Linked DNA regions of Homo sapiens: region 1 is linked to region 2. Evidence: fine-mapped expression QTL. A gene starts in region 2. The other region holds a variant in brackets. All regions are shown on one strand. Distances are from middle to middle. Region 1 has its middle 3.0 kb from the start of PEX39. Region 2 holds the start of PTCRA (pre T cell antigen receptor alpha).

Region 1 (5,379 bases), 23 kb after region 2:
GTGAACTCCAGAGAATATACTGCTTACAGCTTTGATTATTATATCAACGGTAGTAAGTCTCCCCATGTCTGCAGGAGCAGCTGCAACTAATTATACTTACTGTGCCTATGTGCCTTTCCCACCCTTAATTTGGGCAGTCACATGGATGGATAATCCTGTTGAAGTATATGTTAATAATAGGGCATGGGTACCAGGCCCCACAGACGATTGTTGCCCTGCCCAACCTAAAGAAGAAGGAATGATGATAAATGTTTCCACTGGGTATCATTATCCTCCTATTTGCCTAGGGAAGGCACCAGGATGTTTAATGCCTACAACCCAAAACTGGTTGGTAGAAGTACCTACCGTCAGTGCCACCAGTAAATTTACTTATCACATGGTAAGTGGAATGTCACTCGGGCCACAGATAAATAATTTAGAGGACGCTTCTTATCAAAGATCATTAAAATCTGGGCCTAAGGGGAAGCCTTGCCCCAAGGAAATTCCCAAAGAATCAAAAAGCCCAGAAGCCTTAGTTTGGGAAGAATGTGTGGCTAATACTGCGGTGGTATTACAAAACAATGAATTTGGAACTACTATAATATTATATAATAGTTATATATTATATTATATTATATACAATTATATTATATATAATTGTATGGGCCAGACTCACTCATGTTTACAGGCCCCATCCATCTGGCCCATTAATCCGGCCTATGATAGTGATTTAATTGAAAGGCTGGACCAGGTTTATAGAAGGCTAGAATCACCCTATCCCTGGAAATGGGGTGAAAAGGGAATTTCATCACCTCGACCAAAGTTAGTTAGTCCTGTTACTGGTCCTAAACATCCAAAATTATGGAAGCTTACTGTGGCCTCGCACTACATTAGAATTTGGTCTGGAAATCAAGCTACAGAAACAAGAAATCGTAAGCCATATTATACTATCAACCTAAATTCCAATCTGACAATTCCTTTACAAAGTTGTGTAAAACCCCCTTATATGCTAGTTATAGAAAACATAGTTATTAAACCAGATTCCCAAACTATAACCTGTGAAAACTGTAGATTGTTTACTTGCATTGATTTGACTTTTAATTGGCAGCGCCATATTCTGCTAGTGAGGGCAAGAGAAGGTGTGCGGATCCCTGTGTCCATGGACCGACAGTGGGAGGCTTCGCCATCTTCCATATTTTAACGGAAGTATTAAAAGGAATTCTAACTAGATCCAAAAGATTTTTACTTTGATTGCAGTGATTATGGGCCTTATTGCAGTCACAGCTACTGCTGCAGCTGCTGGAATTGCTTTACACTCCTCTGTTCAAACTGCAGAATATGTAAATGATTGGCGAAAGAATTCCTCAAAATTGTGGAATTCTCAGACCCAAATAAATCAAAAATTGGCAAACGAAATTAATGATCTTAGACAAACTGTCATTTGGCTGGGAAATAGGCTCATGAGCTTGGAATATCTTTTTCAGTTACAGTGTGACTGGAATATGTCAGATTTTTGTATTACACCCCAAGCCTATAATGAGTCTGAGCATCACTGGGACATGGTTAGATGCCATCTACAGGGAAGAGAAGATAATCTTACTTTAGATATTTCAAAATTAAAATAACAAAATTTTGAGGCATCGAAAGCCCATTTAAATTTGGGAACTGAGGCAATCGTGAAAGCTACTGATGGCCTCACAAATCTTAACACTGTCACTTGGTTAAAAACCATCAGAAGTTCCACTATTGTAAATTTCATATTAATCCTTGTATGCCTGTTCTGTCTGTTGTTAGTCCACAGGTGTATCCACCAGCTCCGAAGAGACAGCGACCAGCAAGAACGGGCCATAACGACGATGGCAGTTTTGTCAAAAAGGGGGATATGTAGGGAAAAGAGAGATCCGACTGTTACTGTGTCTACATAGAAAAGGAAGACATAAGAAACTCCATTTTGATCTGTACCCTGAACAATTGTTTTGCCTTGAGATGCTGTTAATATGTAACTTTAGCCCCAACCTTGTGCTCACGGAAATATGTGTTGTATGGAATCAAGGTTTAAGGGATCTAGGGCTGTGCAGGATGTGCCTTGTTAACAAAATGTTTACAGGCAGTATGCTTGGTAAAAGTCATCGCCATTCTCCATTCTCGATTAACCAGGGGCACAATGCACTGCAGAAAGCCACAGGGACCTCTGCCCAGGAAAGCCAGGTATTGTCCAAGGTTTCTCCCCACTGAGACAGCCTGAGGTATGGCCTCGTGGGACGGGAAAGACCTGACCATCCCCCAGCCCGACACCCGTGAAGGGTCTGTGCTGAGGAGGATTAGTAAAAGAGGAAGGCCTCTTGCGGTTGAGATAAGAGGAAGGCCTCTGTCTCCTGCATGCCCCTGAGAACGGAATGTCTCAGTATAATACCCGATTGTACATTCGTTCTATTCTGAGATAGGAGAAAACCGCCCTGTGGCTGGAGGCGAGATATGCTGGTGGCAATACTGCTGTGTTATTCTTTACTACACTGAGATGTTTGGGTGGAGAGAAGCATA[T/A]ATCTGGCCTATGTGCACATCCAGGCATAGTACCTTCCCTTGAACTTATTTGTGACACAGATTCCTTTGCTCACATGTTTTCTTGCTGACCTTCTCCCCGCTATCACCCTGTTCTCCTGCTGCATTCCCCTTGCTGAGACAGTGAAAATAATAATCAGTAAATGCTGAGGGAACTCAGAGACTGGGGCCAGTGCAGGTCCTCCGTACGCTGAGCGCTGGTCTCCTGGGCCCAGTGTTCTTTCTCTATACTTTGTCTCTGTGTCTTATTTCTTTTTTTAGTCCCTCGTCCCACCTGACGAGAAATACCCGCAGGTGTGGAGGGGCAGGCCACCCCTTCAAAATTCTTTATTATACAACATTCAATATGGTCAGTTTCCTCCAGACTGGCTTCTCAAGCTCTTACCAAGTGCCCCCTACCCCAATTTTTTTTTTTTTAACAGAGTCTCTGTTGCTCAGGCTAGAGTGCAGTGGAACAATCTTGGCTCACTGCAGCCTCAACCTCCTGAGCTCAAGTGATACTCCAGCCTCAGCCTTCCAAGTAGCTGGAACTACTGGTGTGTGCCACCACATCCAGCCAATTTTTGTTTTTGGAGGGGGTCTCACTATGTTGCCCAGGTTAGTCTTGAACTCCTGGGTTCAAGTGATCCTCCTGCCTTGACCACTCCCAAAGTGCTGGGATTATAGGCGTGAGCCACTGCACCGGGCCTACCCCAACTTTTTATTTTGACAAGTTTCAAACCCTCACGTGGATTCACTAATTCTTAGCAATTTTGCCACATTTGCTTTCTTTCTGTCATCATGACACTTCACCTCTACATACTTCAGAATGTATTTGCTATGAACAAGGTAATTCCCACACATAACCACAATTATCACACTTGATAAATTTAACATTGATATATCGTTGTCATCTAATATATGGATCATATTCAAATTTCCCCAAGGGTAAAATGTCCTTTAGAGCTGATCTCCCCTACACAATCTTGCATCTAATCCAGGATCACTCATTGAATTTATTTATTTATTTATATTTTATTTTATTTTTGGAGACAGAGTTTCACTCTGTCTCCCAGTCGGAAGTTGCTGGCAATCACAGCTCAGTGCAACCTCCACCTACCCGGGTTCAAGCGATTCTTCGACCACTGCCTCCAGAATAGCTGGGACTACAGGTGTCCACCACCATGTTCAGCAATTTTTTTTTTTTGTATTTTTTAGTAGAGATGGGGTTTTGCTATATTGCCCAGGCTGGTCTTGAATTCCTGAGTTCAAGCAATCCACCGACCTCAGCCTCCCAAAGTGCTGGGATTAAAGGCATGAGCCACTGTGTCTGGCCTGTATTTATTTTTTATGTCTCCTTTAATCTGGGGTAGTTCTTAGCTTTTTCTTAATGTTTTATAACAACGACATCTGTAAAGTGTCCAGACCAATCATTTTGCAGAATCTCTCTCACTTTGATCTCTATTTCCTCAAGACTAGGTGGTGAGTGAACATTTTTTGGGCATTTTGGGGAGGACTACTACAGAAATGTACTCCCCGTGTGTGTGTCCTTCCCAGTGCATCACATCAGAAGGCACACAAGGCCAGTTTGTCCTATTAAGCTTTTTTTTTTTTTTTTTTTTTGAGACTGAGTCTCACTCTGTTGCCCAGGCTGGAGTGCAGTGGTGTGATCTCATCTCACTGCAACCTCCCTGCCTCCTAGGTTCAAGCAATTCTTCTGCCTCAGCCTCCCAAGTAGGTGGGATTACAGGTGCGCACCACTATGCCTGGCTAATTTTTTTGTATTTTTAGTAGAGATGGGGTTTCGCCATGTTGGCCAGGCTGGTCTCAAACTCCTGATCTCAGGTGACCTGCCCACCTCAGCCTCCCAAAGTGCTGGGATTACAGGTGTGAGCCACCACGCCTGGCCATTAAGCTTTGATTCTTTGATTAAGGTGATGTTCACCAGATCAGTCTAGCTTTTGATACTTTTTTTTTTTTTTTTTGAGACAGAGTTTTGCTGTGTCACCGAGGGTAGAGTGCAGTGCTGCAATCTCAGCTCACTGCAACTTCTGCCTCCCAGGTTCAAGCGATTCTCCTGCCTCAGCCTCCTGAGTAGCTGGGATTACAGGTGCATGCCACCACACCCAGCTAATTTTTGTATTTTTAGTAGAGACGGGGGTTGCCCCATGTTGGTCAGGCTGGTCTCAAACTCCTGACCTTGAGATCCACCTGCCTCCACCTCCCAAAGTGCTGGGATTACAAGTGTGAGCCACCGTGCCCGGCCACTTTTGATAATTTAAAAACCTGACTTTCCGAGCAGTCAGAGCAGCTGTAGCACATCTGACCTGCTTTCACCTTCGATCTTCTCTGGGACCACCAAGAATTGAAGGATGGCAGGAAGTGTGAAGAAAGTGGTGAGGCTCTGGCTGGGTGCGGTGGCTCACACCTGTAATCCCCGCACTTTGGAAAGCTGAGGCGGGTGCATCACTTAAGGTCAGGAGTTCGAGACTAGCCTAGCCAACATGGTGAAACCCTGTTTCTACTAAAAATACAAAAATTAGCTGGGCTTGGTGGCATACACCAGCTACTAGGGAGGCTGAGGCACTAGGGACCCTGTGGATCGCTTGAACCAGGAGGCGGAGGTTGCAGTGCGCTGAGATCGCATCGCTGCACTCCGGCCTGGGCAACAGAGTGAGACTCCGTCTAAAACAACACAAAACAATAATAACAACTAAGAGAGTAGCGTGGCTTGGTGGCGGTGTCACTCCTGAGGCCTCTGGGAACAACTCTACAGTTATGCTTTGTCCCGTGCTGCGGAGCCTAGTATGGGGATTATCCCCCGCCATGCGTTGTATCTGAATCCTTGTACGCGCGCCCGGG
Region 2 (5,346 bases):
ATCCCAGCTACTCTGGAGGCTGAGGCAGGAGAATTGCACTCCAGCCTGGCGACAGAGCGGGACTCTGTCTCAAAAAATTAAAAAAAAAAAAAATAGGTGGACGGATCATGAGGTCAGGAGATCGAGACCATCCTGGCTAACATGGTGAAACCCTGTCTCTACTAAAAATACAAAAAATTAGCCAGGCATGGTGGCAGGCACCTGTAGTCCCAGCTACTCGGGAGGCTGAGGCAGGAGAATGGCGTGAACCCGGGAGGCGGAGCTTACAGTGAGCCAAGATTGCACCACTGCACTCCAGCCTGGGCGACAGTGCGAGACTCTGTCTCAAAAAAAAAAAAAAAAAAATTATCCTACTAACACATAAATGGTAAGTTGTCCATTCAGGATTTGAACTCTCAGATCTCTGTGACTCCAAATCCCCTAAACCATCTCACTTTGAAGGATGACTAAGATTTTGCCATGTGACACAGTGGACCGTCTAGGACATAGCTTCAGACAGAGCTAAGCGTGACTCCTGACTCATTCACTTAATTTTCTGAGTCTTTATTTTATTTCATTATTATTATTATTATTATTTTTGAGATGGAGTCTCACTCTGTTGCCCAGGCTGGAGTGCAGTGGCAGGATCTCTGTTCACTGCAACCTCCACCCACCGGGGTTCAAGCGATTCTCCTGCCTCAGCCTCCTGAGTAGCTGGGATTACAGGCACCTACCACCACGCGTGGCTAATTTTTGTATTTTTAGTAGAGATGGGGTTTCACCATCTTGGCCAGGCTGGTCTTGAACTCCTGACCTCGTGATCCACCTGCCTCAGCCTCCCAAAGTGCAAAGTGCTAGGATTACAGGCATGAGCCCCATGCCTGGCTTTTTTTTTTTTTGAGACTGATTCTGGTTCTGTCGCCTAGCCTGGAGTGCAGTGGTGGGATCTTGGCTCAGTGCAACCTCCTCCTCCCGGGTTCAAGCAATTCTCCTGCCTCAGCATCCTAAGTAGCTGGATTACAGGCACCTGCCACCATGTCCAGCTAATTTTTGTATTTTTTAGTAGAGATGGGGTTTCGTCATGTTGGCCAGGCTGGTCTCAAACTCCTGACTTCAAGTGATCTGCCCGCCTTGGCCTTCCAAAGTGCTGGAATTACAGGCGTAAGCCACCGCGCCCAGCCAATTTTCTGACTCTTTTTGTTTGTTTTGTTTTGTTTTCATTATGTATGTATTTATTTATTTATTTAGGTTGAAGGAACAATATTTTTTGTGAGTCCCAATGGTCTCATCAATATAATGGTGTTAGGCCGGGCTCAGTGGCTTATGCCTGTAATCCCAGCACTTTGGGAGGCTGAGTCAGGTGAATCACTTGAAGTCAGGAGTTCGGGACCAGCCTGGCCAACGTGGTGAACCCCTGTTTCCACTAAAAATACAAAAATTAGCCGGGCATGATGGTGGGCGGCTGTAATCCCAGCTACTTGGGAAGCTGAGGCAGGAGAACCGCTTGAACCTGGGAGGCAGAGGATGCAGTGAGTTGAGATTGTGCCATTGCACTCCAATCTGGGCAACAGAGCAAACTCTGTCTAATAATAATAATAATAATAATAATAATAATAATAATAATAATATAACGGGCTGGGTGAGGTGGCTCACGTCTGTAATCCCAGCACTTTGGGAGGCTGAGGCGGGCGGATCATGAGGTCAGGAGTTCAAGACCAGCCTGGCCAACACAGTGAAACTCCGTCTGTACTAAAAATACAAAAAATTAGCTGGGCGTGGTGGCAGGTGCCTGTAATCCCAGCTACTTGGGAGGCTGAGGCAGGAGAATCAAGTGAACCCGGGAGGTGGAGGTTGTAGTGAGCCAAGATCACACCATTGTACTCCAGCCCGGGCGACAGTGCGAGACTCTGTCTCAAAAATAAATAATAATAATAATAATAATAATAATAATAATAATAATAATATAATGCTGTTAATAATACCAGCCCAGCAAAATTGTTGTGAAGAGTAAAGGCCATAAGTGTAAAATGCCCTGGCAGATAAGTATTAGTGCAATTGTTGATATTAATATTAATAAGGCATTGCAAACAAAGGTAGTAGAGAAGGCTGGGCACGAGCTCCAGGACTCAACCTCCAGAGCCTTTTCAGTTATATAGATAGAGACATTCCCCAAGTTGAGTTCAGCTTCCACTTCTTCCATGAAGCATCCCAGGATTGTCCCTGCTTACCCTGGTTACTTCCTTCCCGAGCTCAGGCCTCCTGCCATGGGCTCCCTGTGTTCCACATAGGTGTGGTTTATCTCCCTAATGAAGGAGTGCCTGTGAGATACTTGGGGCCAGCTCTAGATCAAGGAGACCCCCCTGACTCAAAAGTCATGGACCTTCCCCCACCACGTACATGCACACATGCACATGCTTCTAGATGAAGCTGGAATTTTCCCCTCAAAACATGAGTCCTTTGGCTCCAGCCTTGATCATGGGAGGGCTGGGGGTAAATACCCTGGGAAGAGGCCTTGGGTCCTATCCTGAGCCCACTGATAAGCGTGAGCTGTGAGTGAACTTGAGACACCCTGAGTCCTATTGAACTAGGGCAGGCATCCTGAGGGCAAGAAGGACAGGACAGGACCTCACACTGTTACCCATATGACATCATTGCATATCACATCACACACACTGGCTACCCTAACCCCACCTTCTATGGATGTCCATCCAGTTTGTTCTCATTTCTCTATACCTCTAAGAGGGGCAGCCTCCCTATCAACACTGTGGGCTCCAGGGCAGGAGGACATAGGAGCCCCAGAGCAAGGTGGCTGGGAGGAAGAGTACAATGGGAAGAGTATAGTGGGGACCCTCTATATAGGGTCCCCTCCCCAGAGGTCCCCTCCCCAGAGGGACCCTCCCCAGAGGTCCCTAAATATCTCTTGTCCTGCCTCCCTGCAGCCCATCAGTACCCAGGGAGGTCCAGAGTGAGGGGATGGGCTTCGGCAGACTGAGGAGGGACAGAGAGGAAGGCAAAGAGGGGGCTCACCTGTGGGTAGGGCTGGACACCCAAGGGCCAGGAGAAGTAGCAGCCATGTACCGGCCATGGCCCACTCGGAAGGAGGCAGGACCCAGCTGCAGACCTGAGTTGCGGCTGGGGGAGGAGGCACCCACAAGACTGCCTTCTAGGCCACAGGCCCAGCTGCACCTCAGCTGCTCTACCACGAGCCGTTTCCCCTGGTGACGGGCCCCTACTCCTGCCCTGGCCCCCAAACCCAATCTTGTCTCACGGGCCAGGGAGCACAGGGTGCCTCTCCCACACCAGGAGCCGGACACCTGCACTCCCTCTGAAGAGACAGCACTTCAGTCTGCAAAGTCCCGCTTCAGGGCAGCTACCATCCACAGGACACGGAGCACCAGGTGGCTTGACAGGGGCTTGACATACAGCCCTTCACTTGATCCACTCAACCACTGAGTTACATTTCACAGGTGAGGCAACTGAGGCTCACAGAGAGTGAGGGACCCGCCCAGGGCCACACAGCTGACAGGTACCAGAGCCAGGGCTTGAACTGTTTTTAGATGGCTGGCTTTATTATAGGCAAAAAGATACCCAGGGCCAGGCGCAGTGGCTCACGCCTGTAATCCCAGCACTTTGGGAGGCTGAGACGAGCGGATCACAAGGTCAGGAGATCAAGACCATCCTGGCTAACACGGTGAAACCCCGTCTCTACTAAAAATACAAAAAAATTAGCTGGGTGTGGTGACGGGCACCTGTAGTCCCAGCTATTCAGGAGGCTGAGGCAGGAGAATGGTGTGAACCCGGGAGGTGGAGCTTGCAGTGAGCCAAGATTGTGCCACTGCACTCCAACCTGGGCGACAGAGCGAGACGCCATCTCAAAAAAAAAAAATAAAAAAAGATGCCCAGTAAACTTTTTGCCATGTTGTTACAGCCCTCCTTTTATTTATTTAATTTTTTTTTTTAGAGATGGGGTTCTTTCTTTGTTGCCCAGGCTAGAATGCGGCAGTACAATCATAGCTCACTGCAGTCTTGAACTCCTGGGCTCAAGTGATCCTCCTTCGTCAGCCTCCTGAGTAGCTAAGACCACAGGCATGCGCTACCACACCCAGCTAATTTATTTTTATTTTGATTTTTTGTAGAGATGGAGTCTTGCTTTGTTGCCTATGTTGGTTTCGTACTCCTGGGCTCAAGCGATCCTCCTGCTCTGGCTTCCCGAAGTGCTGGGAGTACTGGTGTGAGCCACATGCCTGGCATTTATTATACCATTTTAACTTTTTTTTTTTTTTTAAGAGACAGGCTTTTACTCTGTCACCCAGGCTGGAGTGCAGTGATGCGATCACAGCTCACTACACTCTTGAAATCCTGGGCTCAAGCAATCCTCCCACCTCAGCCTTTTGGATTTTTTGGAGACAGTCTGGCTTTATCACTCAGGCTGGAGTGCAGTGGCATGATCTCACCTCAATGCAACATCTGCCTCCCAGTCCCAAGCGATCCTCCTGCCTCACCTTCCCAAGCAGCTGGGACCACAGGCACATGCCACCACACCCAGCTAAATTTTTGTGTTTTTTGCAGAGACTGGGTTTCATCATATTGCCAGTCTGGTCTCGAACTCTTGAGCTCAAGTGATCCACCCTTCAAAGTTCTGGCATTACAGGCATGAGCCACTGTGCCTGGCGTCCTTTTGTTTTTAATCAGACATTCTGTTACAGCAGCCATTCCTTTATTGTTAGACATTTGGGTTTCCAGTTTGGGACAATGGCCATCTTTGTTCATAAAAGCTTTTCCAAATTTGCTTTTTTTTTTTTTTTTGGAGATGGAATCTCTCTCCGTCACCAAGCTGTAGTGCAGTGGTGTGATCTCGGCTCACTGAGACTTCTGCCTCCCGGGTTCAAGCGATTCTCCTGCCTCAGCCTCCAGAGTAGCTGGGACTACAGGCGTGCGCTACCATGCCCAGCTGATTTTTGTATTTTTAGTAGAGATGGGGTTTCACCATGTTGGCCAGGATGGTCTCGATCTCTTGACCTCTCAATCCGCCCACCTTGGCCTCCTAAAGTGCTGGGATTACAAGGGTGAGCCACCGCGCCCGGCTACTTTTTTTGTTTTTGAGACAGGGTCTTGCTCTGTCACCCAGACTGGAGTGCAGTGGTACAGTCAAGGCTCACTGCAACCTCCACCTCCCTGGCTCAAGCGATCCTCCTGCCTCACCCCCAAATTAACCTCTCCAGTAGCTAAGACCACAGGCGTGCGCCACCACCTGGCTAATTTTTTGTATTTTTGTAGAGATGGGATTTTACCATGTTGCCCAGGTTGGTCTAGAACTCCTGAGCTCAAATGATCTGCCTGCCTTGACCTCCCAATGTGCTGGGATCA

What was found. PIP is the estimated chance that this variant, and not a neighbour inherited with it, causes the effect.
Region 1: its variant is fine-mapped to the expression of PTCRA in whole blood (INTERVAL, PIP above 0.99).

What each region holds. Positions count from the first base shown.
Region 1 is chr6:42,891,150-42,896,528 of GRCh38, reverse strand. No RefSeq gene overlaps it. Among named protein-coding and RNA genes, the nearest start is that of PEX39, 3.0 kb to the right of the region's middle. RefSeq lists enhancers at 5,257-5,306, 5,367-5,379. The variant T/A (reference allele first, on the strand shown) is at 2,521.
Region 2 is chr6:42,913,788-42,919,133 of GRCh38, reverse strand. It overlaps PTCRA (pre T cell antigen receptor alpha), which reads right to left and starts at 3,081. Exons shown (of 4, transcript NM_138296.3): 1 at 3,007-3,081. The coding sequence starts at 3,064.